Linked DNA regions of Homo sapiens. The protein of the gene in region 2 interacts with the protein of the main gene of each other region in a biochemical or structural test. Each region holds a gene or a part of one and is shown on either strand. Other genes may lie near its edges.

The links.
Region 1: of the proteins of CTDP1 (region 2) and CDK7, one has a biochemical effect on the other in vitro, tested with the Homo sapiens proteins (one study listed by BioGRID).
Region 3: the proteins of CTDP1 (region 2) and INTS6 form a complex in vitro, tested with the Homo sapiens proteins (one study listed by BioGRID).

The regions. Positions count from the first base shown.
Region 1 is NC_000005.10:69,237,876-69,241,532, forward strand, and holds part of CDK7 (cyclin-dependent kinase 7), read left to right. Parts: intron 1-3,657. UniProt on the Homo sapiens protein: Serine/threonine kinase involved in cell cycle control and in RNA polymerase II-mediated RNA transcription. Cyclin-dependent kinases (CDKs) are activated by the binding to a cyclin and mediate the progression through the cell cycle.
Region 2 is NC_000018.10:79,682,646-79,686,302, forward strand, and holds part of CTDP1 (RNA polymerase II subunit A C-terminal domain phosphatase), read left to right. Parts: intron 1-3,657. UniProt on the Homo sapiens protein: Processively dephosphorylates 'Ser-2' and 'Ser-5' of the heptad repeats YSPTSPS in the C-terminal domain of the largest RNA polymerase II subunit. This promotes the activity of RNA polymerase II.
Region 3 is NC_000013.11:51,360,962-51,363,598, forward strand, and holds the end of INTS6 (integrator complex subunit 6), read right to left. Parts: 3' UTR 1,037-2,637; coding exon of another isoform or gene 849-1,036; 3' UTR 616-848; downstream 1-615. Other genes in the region: SERPINE3 (serpin E3 isoform 2 precursor), read left to right, coding at 317-403, 849-1,036. UniProt on the Homo sapiens protein: Component of the integrator complex, a multiprotein complex that terminates RNA polymerase II (Pol II) transcription in the promoter-proximal region of genes.

The DNA.
Region 1 (3,657 bases), on a different chromosome or scaffold from region 2:
GGATTACACGTGTGAGTCACTATGCCTGGCCTATTTCTTGAGGTGTTTTTTCTCCCCCAGTTTTAGACGTTGTCTATACTTTCTACTATGAACATTGAGGATTTGGTGTTGTAGACCTTATTCCAACACTCATAATTTCTACTCCCGTTCATTTGCTAGGATGTGTTTAATTTTATAAAAAGGGAAGGAATCAATAAATAAGTTACTCTGTACTCATTCACCTGTTGAGTCTTGGACTTTAGAAATACTGATGTATCTCATCCTTTTAAAAAGATTATGTGGAATTTGTTTCCCAATTTATTTAACCAATCACCTATTGATGGCCTTTTGGGTTATATCTCATTTTTCAGTGTGTGTCTTAAATCTGTGTATCTCAAAACAATATATAGTATTGCATACTTTTTTTTTCCTTTTTTTTTTTTTTTGAGACAGCAACTTGCTGTGTGTTTCCCTGGCTGGAGTGTAGTGGTACAATCATAGCTCACTGAAGCCTTGACCTCCTGGTCTCAAGCATTCCATCTGCTTCAGCCTCCCAACCAGCTAGGAGTACAGGTGCATGCCACCGTGCCCCACTAAATTTGTTGTTCTTCTTGTAGAGACAGGGTCTCACTCTGTTGACTAGACTGGTCTTCAACTCCTGGGCTCAAGTGAACCTTCCACCTTAGCCTCCCAAAGTGCTGAGATTACAGGTGTGAGCCCCTGTACTCAGCCAGTATTGCATACTTTAAGCTATATATGTATATTTGGCATATTCTTCTGCAACTTGTTATTCTTTTTTTTTTATTTTATTTTTTTTTTTGAGACAAGGTCCCACTCTGTCGCACAGGCTGGAGTGCAGTGGCGTGATCTCGGCTCACTGCAACCTCCACCTCCCCAGGCTCAAGCAGTTCTCCTGCCGCAGCCTCTCAACTGCTGACCTCAACTGATCTGCCCACCTCGGCCTCCCAAAGTGCTGAGATTACAGGCTTGAGCCACCACACCCAGCCTGCAACTTGTTATTCTGAGTCAACATTATTTCCGAAATCCTCTATATCGTATGATACATGTAGATCCAGTTGATTCATGCTCGTTGATTATTAGATTCCATTATATGACTACACTGAAATTTTCTATCCAAACTCTCGTTGATAAACATTTAGGCTGCTTTTTAATGTTTTCCTTTAATACATTCCTTCTCTGGATAGTCATCTGTGAGTCATCTTGTATGCAGGTTTGAGTTTCTCTAGAGAATGTATCTATAATTGAAACAAATTATGAATTGATGCTTCAGAGTATCACAACCATCAGCTTTACCAGATATGGTCAAATTGCTCTCCAGAATGATTGGACCAGTTTACTGTCCCACCACATTCTCAACATCATTTGCATTGTCAGACTTTAAAACGTTTGTCAATTACGTAGATTGAAAATGGTATGTACTTATTGTTTCAATTAACATTTCTCTGATTACTGGTAAAGTTCATCATCTTTTCTTACACTTACTGGCTTCTTAGATTTTCTCCTGTTTTCTGTTGGATTACGTACTTTTTTTGTCCTATTGATTTATTGGACTTATTCATACTTTTTGTTTTTTTTAATAGAGACAAGGTTTCACTTTGTTGTCCAGTCTGGTATCAAACTCCTGGCCTTAAGCAATCCTCCAGCATCGGCCTCCCAAAGAGCTGGGATTACAGGTGTGAACCACAGCAACCAGCCAGAATTCTTTTATATTCTGGATATTGATCCTTTGTCAGAAATACACATTGCATATATCATTTCCCAGTCTTTGGCAAGGCTTTTAGTTTATTTATGGTATCTTTGAGGTACTGAAAGTTAAATTTTAATATGATTGAATTTGTTAATTTTTTTGAAATCTTTAAAGGCTTCCTTTTTATGTGCTTTCCTGTTTCTGGATTACAAAGAATTCTGTACTTGTAAAATTTTTAAAATATTGATTTTAATACTTAGATCTTTATTCCATCAACAAGTTTTTCCTTTGTTGTATGATATGAGGATCCAGTATTTTTTTTTTTTTTCAATAGAGACAGGGTCTTTCTATATTGGCCAGGCTGGTCTTGAACTCCTGGCCTCAAGCCATCCTCCTGCCTCAGTCTCCCAAAGTGCTTGGATTACAGGCATGAGACACTGTGCCTGGCTAAGATTGAGTATTTTTTCTTCAGTTGTCCCAGTACTATTAATAGTCTGTCCTTTTCCCAATGAGTTGTAATGCCAAATTCCCCATACCCTTGCAATACCAAGTTCCAGTATTGGAACTTGGGTCCAATTTCTGGGCACACTATTCTGTTCCAGTGGTGGGTTTGTTTGTTTTTTTTCCCATTGCTGTTGAAATATTACAGTGACTTTAAGAAGTCTTAAAATCTGTCAACTTCCATACACCTTGTTTTTCTTCTTCAAAATCATTTTGGCTACTCTATGAGACAGTTGGGAAATGTGAATCAGGAAAATTTGAATAGGAACTAGATATTAGATGCTACTGTGGCATTATTGTTAATTTTGTTAGGTGTCAAAATGGCATGGTTATGTAAGAATGTCTGTATTTTAGAGATGCTTACTTAAGTACGTTGGAGTGAAATGACATGAAGTCTGGGGTTTTAAAATATTTTAGGCAACAAAAAGGAGAGGTTGGATGAATGAAGTAAGTGTGGCAAAATATTGGTCACTGTTGAATCTGGGTGATGGAGTAGAGGGCTTTATGAAATTACTCTATTTTTTATTATGTGGGAAAATGTTAAGAATTTTAAAATCAACTGTTCTTAGCTCCTTCCTTTTTTGAGACGGAGTCTCCCTCTGTCGCCAGGCTGGAGTGCAATGGCGCGATCTCGGCTCACTGCAACCCCCGCCTCCCAGGTTCAAGCAGTTCTCCTGCCTCAGCCTCCCGAGTAGCTGGGATTACAGACACATGCCACCACACCCAGCTAATTTTTTGTATTTTTAGTAGAGACGGGGTTTCCATGTTGACCAGGATGGTCTCTATCTCCTGACCTCAAGTGATCTGCCTGCCTTGGCCTCCCAAAGTGCTGGGATTACAGGTGTGAGCCACCGCACCTGGCCTCTTTTATTTTTGAATGGTACTCTTTGTGTATATGCACCACATTTTCTTTATTCATTCATTTGTTGACAGACGCATAGATTGCCTCCAAATCTTGGCTATTCTGAATAGTGCTGCAATAAACATGGGAGTTCAGATATCTCTTGGACATACAGATTCTGTTGGCATATATACATAGCAATGGAATTGCTAGATCAAATGATAGTTCTATTTTTAGTTTTTTGAGGAACCTCCAAACTGTCCTCCATAGTGGTTGTACTAATTTACATTCCCACCAACAATGTACCTAGGGTTCCCTTTTCTCCACATCCCTCACCAGGATTCATCCTTATCTTTTGGATAAAAGCCATTTAAACTTAGGTGAGATGCTCTCTCATTGTAGGTTTTTTCTTTTTTTTTTTTTTTTTTTTTTTTGAGACGGAGTCTTGCTCTGTCACCCAGGCTGGAGTGCAGTGGCGCAATCTCGGTTTACTGCAACCTCCGCCTCCTGGGTTCAAGCAATTCTCCTGCCTCAGCCTCCTGAGTAGCTGGGATTACAGGTGCACACTGCATCACCACACCCGGCTAATTTTTGTATTTTTAGTAGAGACGTGGTTTCACCTTGTTGG
Region 2 (3,657 bases):
GGAGCCCAGCCTGTTTATACAGAGCGCTGACTTTCTGGATCAGTGGGTTCTCCAGGTTGACTGCGGGACCTGAGTATCTGTGGATGTGGAATTTGGTATCTGAAGGAGTCCTGCAGCCCGTCCCCCGTGAGAATGAGGGACTGATTAAATATGGAAGTCTTTCCATAATAGATTGTGCCGCTTTGTGATGAAGTAGAGAATATTGGGCATAATTCCATCCTGATGTTGGAAGGTGATAGGTGTGAGTTTAGTTCTCATCCCTGCGACGCCTCTGGGACGTCGGTTGGTGAAGAGCATCTGCCTTCCTCTAGAGAGCCTGAGTCACTTTCACTTAAAAGGTTTTTCCTCTGTTTTTCTTTTTTTCTCTGATTGCTGGTGTGGTCATTTCCAGCAACAGCTCCGCGGTTCTCTTCTGCGGTGTCCCACCACTTGGAGGCTGGAAGGTGAAGACATCAGGGAAGAGGAACTGCCTTCAACCGTCATTGACTCTGCTCACCAGCCCAGGTGTTTGATTTTTACTAAGCAAGTTCCCAGAATTGCACGTGGGCTGTTTTATAATTGACTTATCTTGACCACCTCTAAAAGTTCTCTTGAAGTTACAGATTCCTGAGATCTTTATCTGGGAGAGCAAGCATTTGGTTGAAGTTTGCTTTAAATGTTTATAGACTGATTATCGTGTATTGATCCTTAGAGTACCCCTTTCAGATTATGCAAATAACACGCACTTGTATAGACAAGCATGGGCAGAATCCACAACTGCTTTTGTGGAGGCTCCAACCCTGGCTTCAGCTCATCTGCGTGTGAGGGCAGGGGAGGTGCAGAATCTGCTCCTGGGCTTGTGCTGAAAGGAGGTCCCTTTTAACAGGGACCTCCCAGCACCAATGGAACCCCGTGGCTCTTGGTGAGAGAGAGCAGGTCCTGCCCAGCTGATGGATCAGAAACTCAGGTGTCAGAAACGGGGTTTCAGGGCGGCTGCCTGAGGAATGCGCAGGCGATCTGACGTTGGAATTCTGGCTTGGGCGAAGCCCTTGATGTGGCCACACAGTTTTGGTCCCTCAAGGGCTTACTGGTTGCCTGCGTGCCCTGGTGGCTCCTTGGTGAGGGGCCTTTGGAGAAAGTCTTGGGAAATCAGATTTCCCGAGGGTGTTGTTGAGGACATTGCTGACGAGGTGTGGGATTTACGGGGAGGACAGCCTGTCTCTTGAGGCTTGGTCGCTGTGTTCACCCTGCAGGTGTTATGAATTAGCTTCTGGCCCAGGACGGTTTTGGGACCGGGGGGTGCCTACCCACTGTTGTTCCTTTATCTTGATCCTTTCACAGGGCTTATAAAAATACTTATTTTTCAGGAATAACGGGAAGTATCTTTGAAAACATAGCATTAAATCTGCTGAACTGGAGCTTGCAGAGAGCAGACAGCGGCAGCAGCCTGAGTGTGCTAAGCTCAAGCGTCGCTTGTGTGCCATCACCTTAGTGAAGGTGGCTCTTGACCCCACTGGCCGCCGGCTGCTTGACAGTAACTTGTTTAGCTGAGACTGTGTTTGAGAAACTGAGAGGTGTGGATGTTGCTTGTACATGTGCAGCCAGCATGCTCACAGTGCCGAGGAGCAGACTACGCGCTGCTCCAGAGCGTAGATTAGAACGTCAGTCTAAACAGTTCTTTATAGCATGGAATTTTAACAAAGAAAGAAGAATCCCACGTGGGTATGTGTGAGTGAGCCTTGTGTAGCTTAGTGTCGGTTACTGAGGCGGAGCACTGCGGAGAGAGGTAATGGAACCTGTGGCCCTGTGAAACCTCCCTCTATAAATAGCAGGTGTGAGTGAACCTGTGAAAAGCACCAGCACCAGCCAGGCAGGGTGGGTCCGTGCCCTCGTTGCCTGCATTGTTGTCACCAGGCAAGGTGGGTCCCTGCTCTTGTTACCTTCATTGTTGTCACCAGGCAAGGTGGGTCCGTGCCCTCGTTGCCTGCGTTGTTGTCACCAGGCAAGGTGGGTCCGTGCCCTCGTTGCCTGCATTGTTGTTACCAGCAACATTTATCCTAACCACATCAGTGGTTATTTTTAGACAAAGAACCATTCTGGGAACTTAAAAACACTGCATTTGGGTGAAGTTACAATAGTCACTAGATTGTCGTTTTGATCTTTAATAAGATTGTATGTTTTTGTCGGGCTTCATCCTATCTGGCAGAAGTAAGAACCTCCTCACTCCATTGGAAAGAAACTGAGGTTCCAAGAAGTTTGGACCTGCCCTGCCCCTTACAGGGTGTGAGGTCCTGGTGAGGAGGACGGTGCAGGGACCTCGTGGTCTCTACTCCCGGTTTCTCTGCGGTGCTCCTTACGGGGTGTGAGGTCCTGGTGAGGAGGACGGTGCAGGGACCTCGTGGTCTCTACTCCCAGTTTCTCTGCGGTGCTCCTTACGGGGTGTGAGGTCCTGGTGAGGAGGACGGTGCAGATGCCTCGTGGTGTGCTCAGGCCCTTGAGAGAGCCTCTGTCCTTGGTTCTCTGCGTGCTGCTCTCTGTAGACCAGGTTTCAGCCCTGGAGATTCCTAGTGTGGGGGGAGTAGCTAGAACAATAGTGTTTGTCTGCTTTTATAATATTTATGTGGAGTACAATTATTTTAATAGAAAATATTCTGACAGGTCACCATCTTTCAGAAACTAAGTCTTTTTTTTCCTGCAGATTTCTTTGCTTTGGCTTTTTCCCAGTCACTCACAGGGAGGTATTTAAATCGCCACAGAAAGGGGAAGGTACCTAAAATGATCTGGGAGCCTGCAGTGACTGGTGAGAACTAACAGGCGGAGGCCGTGTGCGAGGGTTGATGACGTCTGACAGACTGTACCTGTGCCTTTAGCGTGTCCACAGGAAGGGCATCTGCATTCACCAGCGCAGGGTGTGAGAGTGCCACAGAGAAGCAGAAAAACATTGCTGAATAAAATGAAGATCATTCCAACAGCAACGGTATTGCTGTCTTTATTGCTTTGTAGATTTTGGAATGAGAATCTCTGAGAAATAGTAATACAGTTAGAATAGGCTGCAACCTAAGATTAGTCCCCGAATTTATTGTTCTGTGATGAGGGAGTAGAAGCCTCTGAAATTCTAAATGTGCTTCAGTCAGTGCACGAACGTCGTCACCTAAGGGTCCGGTCCTGGAAATAAGGACATTTCGTTTTCATCCTGGTACCAAGAATCTTGATGAATTGGTAATTCTTTTAGAATAGTTTTATTATTAACAATTCTAATAATTATTTAGAATACTTTTATTCTTCCCTGTTGACGCCTGCACTATTTAAAGGATGATACTTTAAAAAAGATATTTGTGCCTAAAATTTGGGGGGCTGTCACTTTGTCAGCCCATTAAACGTGGGTAAGTTGCACTTCAAACGTTTTGCTTTGTTTTTCCCACTTTTCACCTAACAGAAAACCACTGGGCCTTGTTACTTGCTTGGTTTTGTTCGTCTGTGATTTACCTTTGTCATGGGTTTTTAGGTATCTCCGATCTAATCTTTTAGATAAAGGACTTTGAAGCACGTCTGCCTGGAAATGGTTTGTAGGTTTCAGAAATTTTGTGTGCATTATCAGATTTGTCTCCATTTTCATGGTTTCTTTAAAGTTAGTTTTAAAGTGGGTTATGTGAAATCATCTAGTATCTGGGTACAGAG
Region 3 (2,637 bases), on a different chromosome or scaffold from region 2:
ATCATTTCTGAAAATGAACCACTGAAAAAATGGGGCAGTGCTCTGAATATTATTTTGGGAGCGATTACATATTTTAACAAATTAAATATATATAACAAATTAAAGTTTGGTAACATATTGAGTCTTAAGAATTTTCCAAACAGCTACCTGAGCCTCCAGTAAAAACAAAAACAGAATTTTCCACTCTTTCCCTAGCTACACAGTAAGCAGCATTGGATACTATAAATTTTGTAAGTACATTTTTAAAGAATGTGTTCTAAATGTGTTAGAAAAATGTTAATGAGCAACTCACATTTTTATCATTTTCTGTGGTTAGGCCAAGATGGCTTTTATGTTTCTGAAGCAATCCACAAGGCCAAGATTGAAGTTTTGGAGGAAGGCACCAAGGCATCTGGAGCCACAGGTATGTTCAGAGAATACCCAGTCACACTGCTTACCCATATCTACCTTTCTGAAATTTACCTAGTTGAATCTTCACACTTCTGAATCTTTCCATAACCCCCAAGTTCAGGTGTGGTGTAGTATTTTTTAAAAAGGAACACTAAAGAAAACAAAAAGTTTTTGAAAAATGACGGGGAAGAAGAGATATCCATCCCATAAAAATAATTCTGAAAGTTACCTTCAATAAGGAATTTATTCCATGGAATGTGTTGAAAACAGGAGACAGGATTGGCTAAATGGCATCTTTTCTCTTTAATTTTCCCATCTGCACCCCCATCACAACAGTAAACAATCAAATGCCATTAGGATGCTTTGATTTCTTAAAAAATTAACTTACTTCATAACCAATAGTTATTTTCTTAAAAATGCACAGAAAATGCAATGGAATTTTTCTTTCTTTCCTGCAGCTCTGTTGTTATTGAAAAGGTCTCGGATTCCTATTTTTAAAGCAGATCGGCCATTCATCTATTTCCTGAGAGAACCTAACACAGGTATTACAGTATTTTTTGACAGGATTCAGATAATTTATCAGTGTCTCTCTAGCAACAAGGGCTCATTTGTCCACTATCCCCTCAAAAATAAGCATTCTTTCTAGCTGTTTTTATGGTGCTTCAGAAGCTACCCAGTTGCTATCTTCTATCCTAAGAAAGGGGACTATTTCGTAAGTACAAAGGAAACTTATCCTCCATGTTTTTTACCTTCTCATTCTCTCAGCTCATATATAGTTAATGTAGATTTTTTTTTTTAATGCTATAGGTTTCTACTTCTGAAGACACTTGGAAAAATCATGAAAGTAAAATAAATTATAAATCTTGCCCTTTTTTCCCTTTGTCCCCTAGCTTTCTTATCATTTTAGAGTTTTTTCAGGTCACTAGAGTACACCAGAGTAGTCCTCTTGTGATCCTAGTATTCTAATGAATGCACCTGGATTTCTATACTGTTCTGTTGATCTTTCTCAAAAATCAAATGTTTGCCCTAGTACTTTTAAGTCCTACTACATAACCTTATGGTAATCCAAAGATGGTGTGGTACCGGCAAAGCCTCAGTACATCAGAAGGACACACAAATATTCTTAGGCTTCGACAATATTGAACAAAGTCTTTAGATTATTTCTCTTAATGTTCTTCCTCCCCCACTCACAATTACTTAGCCTAGGAAGGAAAAGAGATTCTCAGTTAAGAGTTGTTGGCAAGTCTAAACAGTGTATTAAAAAGAAATAGGATAGAACAAGACTAATAAAATCAAGCAAAGGTGGATCTACTTTAACTAAACATCAGGCATTACTTTTATTTATGGAGAAAAATGTCAAAAGTTAGAATGAAAATTATGCATAGTTTTACATAAATTGTTAAGGAAATACTGTCAACATCATTTTATCTGAGAATCATTTGCATCCTGCTGTACCTTGTGCTAGAAATCAAAGGAACATTTTTGTGACGAGAAAGATATAAACCATTCACTAGAAAATAATCTATTTGGGATTATTTGGAGAGAAAAAGTCCATCAACAGAGTATGTCTTCCTAGTATTTCACCATGATCATCCCAACCACATAACGATTAGATGAAAATATCACTTATCACCCAGAACAGGCGGCAGAGAGCCTTCTCTTAGAAAGGACACGTCAAAAAAATGAAAGATGAGAAAAAGGACAGGTTCTACTCCCTAAGGAAACAAAGAGACAGGACTACATTTGAACAGAAAGGTCATTGCCAAAAGCCAATAGCCAATAAAGGTTGATAGGTAAAAGAGAGATTCTGATTTTGGAATTCAAGTGCATAAAAATGATGTAAAATCCTTAAACAAGGAAAAGACACACCACTATTTCAATGGTAGGAGTTTTCAGAACTGCCTCAGTAATCAGAATGAAAATATAAGGATAATCCAAAACCAGTTCCACAATCCACTGGAATTCTAATAGTCCTTGTGACTTTACCTCTATCTGGGAGGCATTAGCCTACATCACACAACACAGTGGCTGCTCTTCTGGTGATGGTTATGGAAGAGTTTAGAAATGAGTCTCAGCCTTCATTATTTCCAACTGACAAATCTTACTAAGAGCAACTAATGAATCAATCAGCAAATGAGAAACATGGGAGACATTAAAAAAAAAGATTTGAAAACCTCAAGATTAAACTTTCCAAGAATATCATTTGTCGAGCCTTAAGTCATTCAGTGACATAAAGGGCCTAAAAGA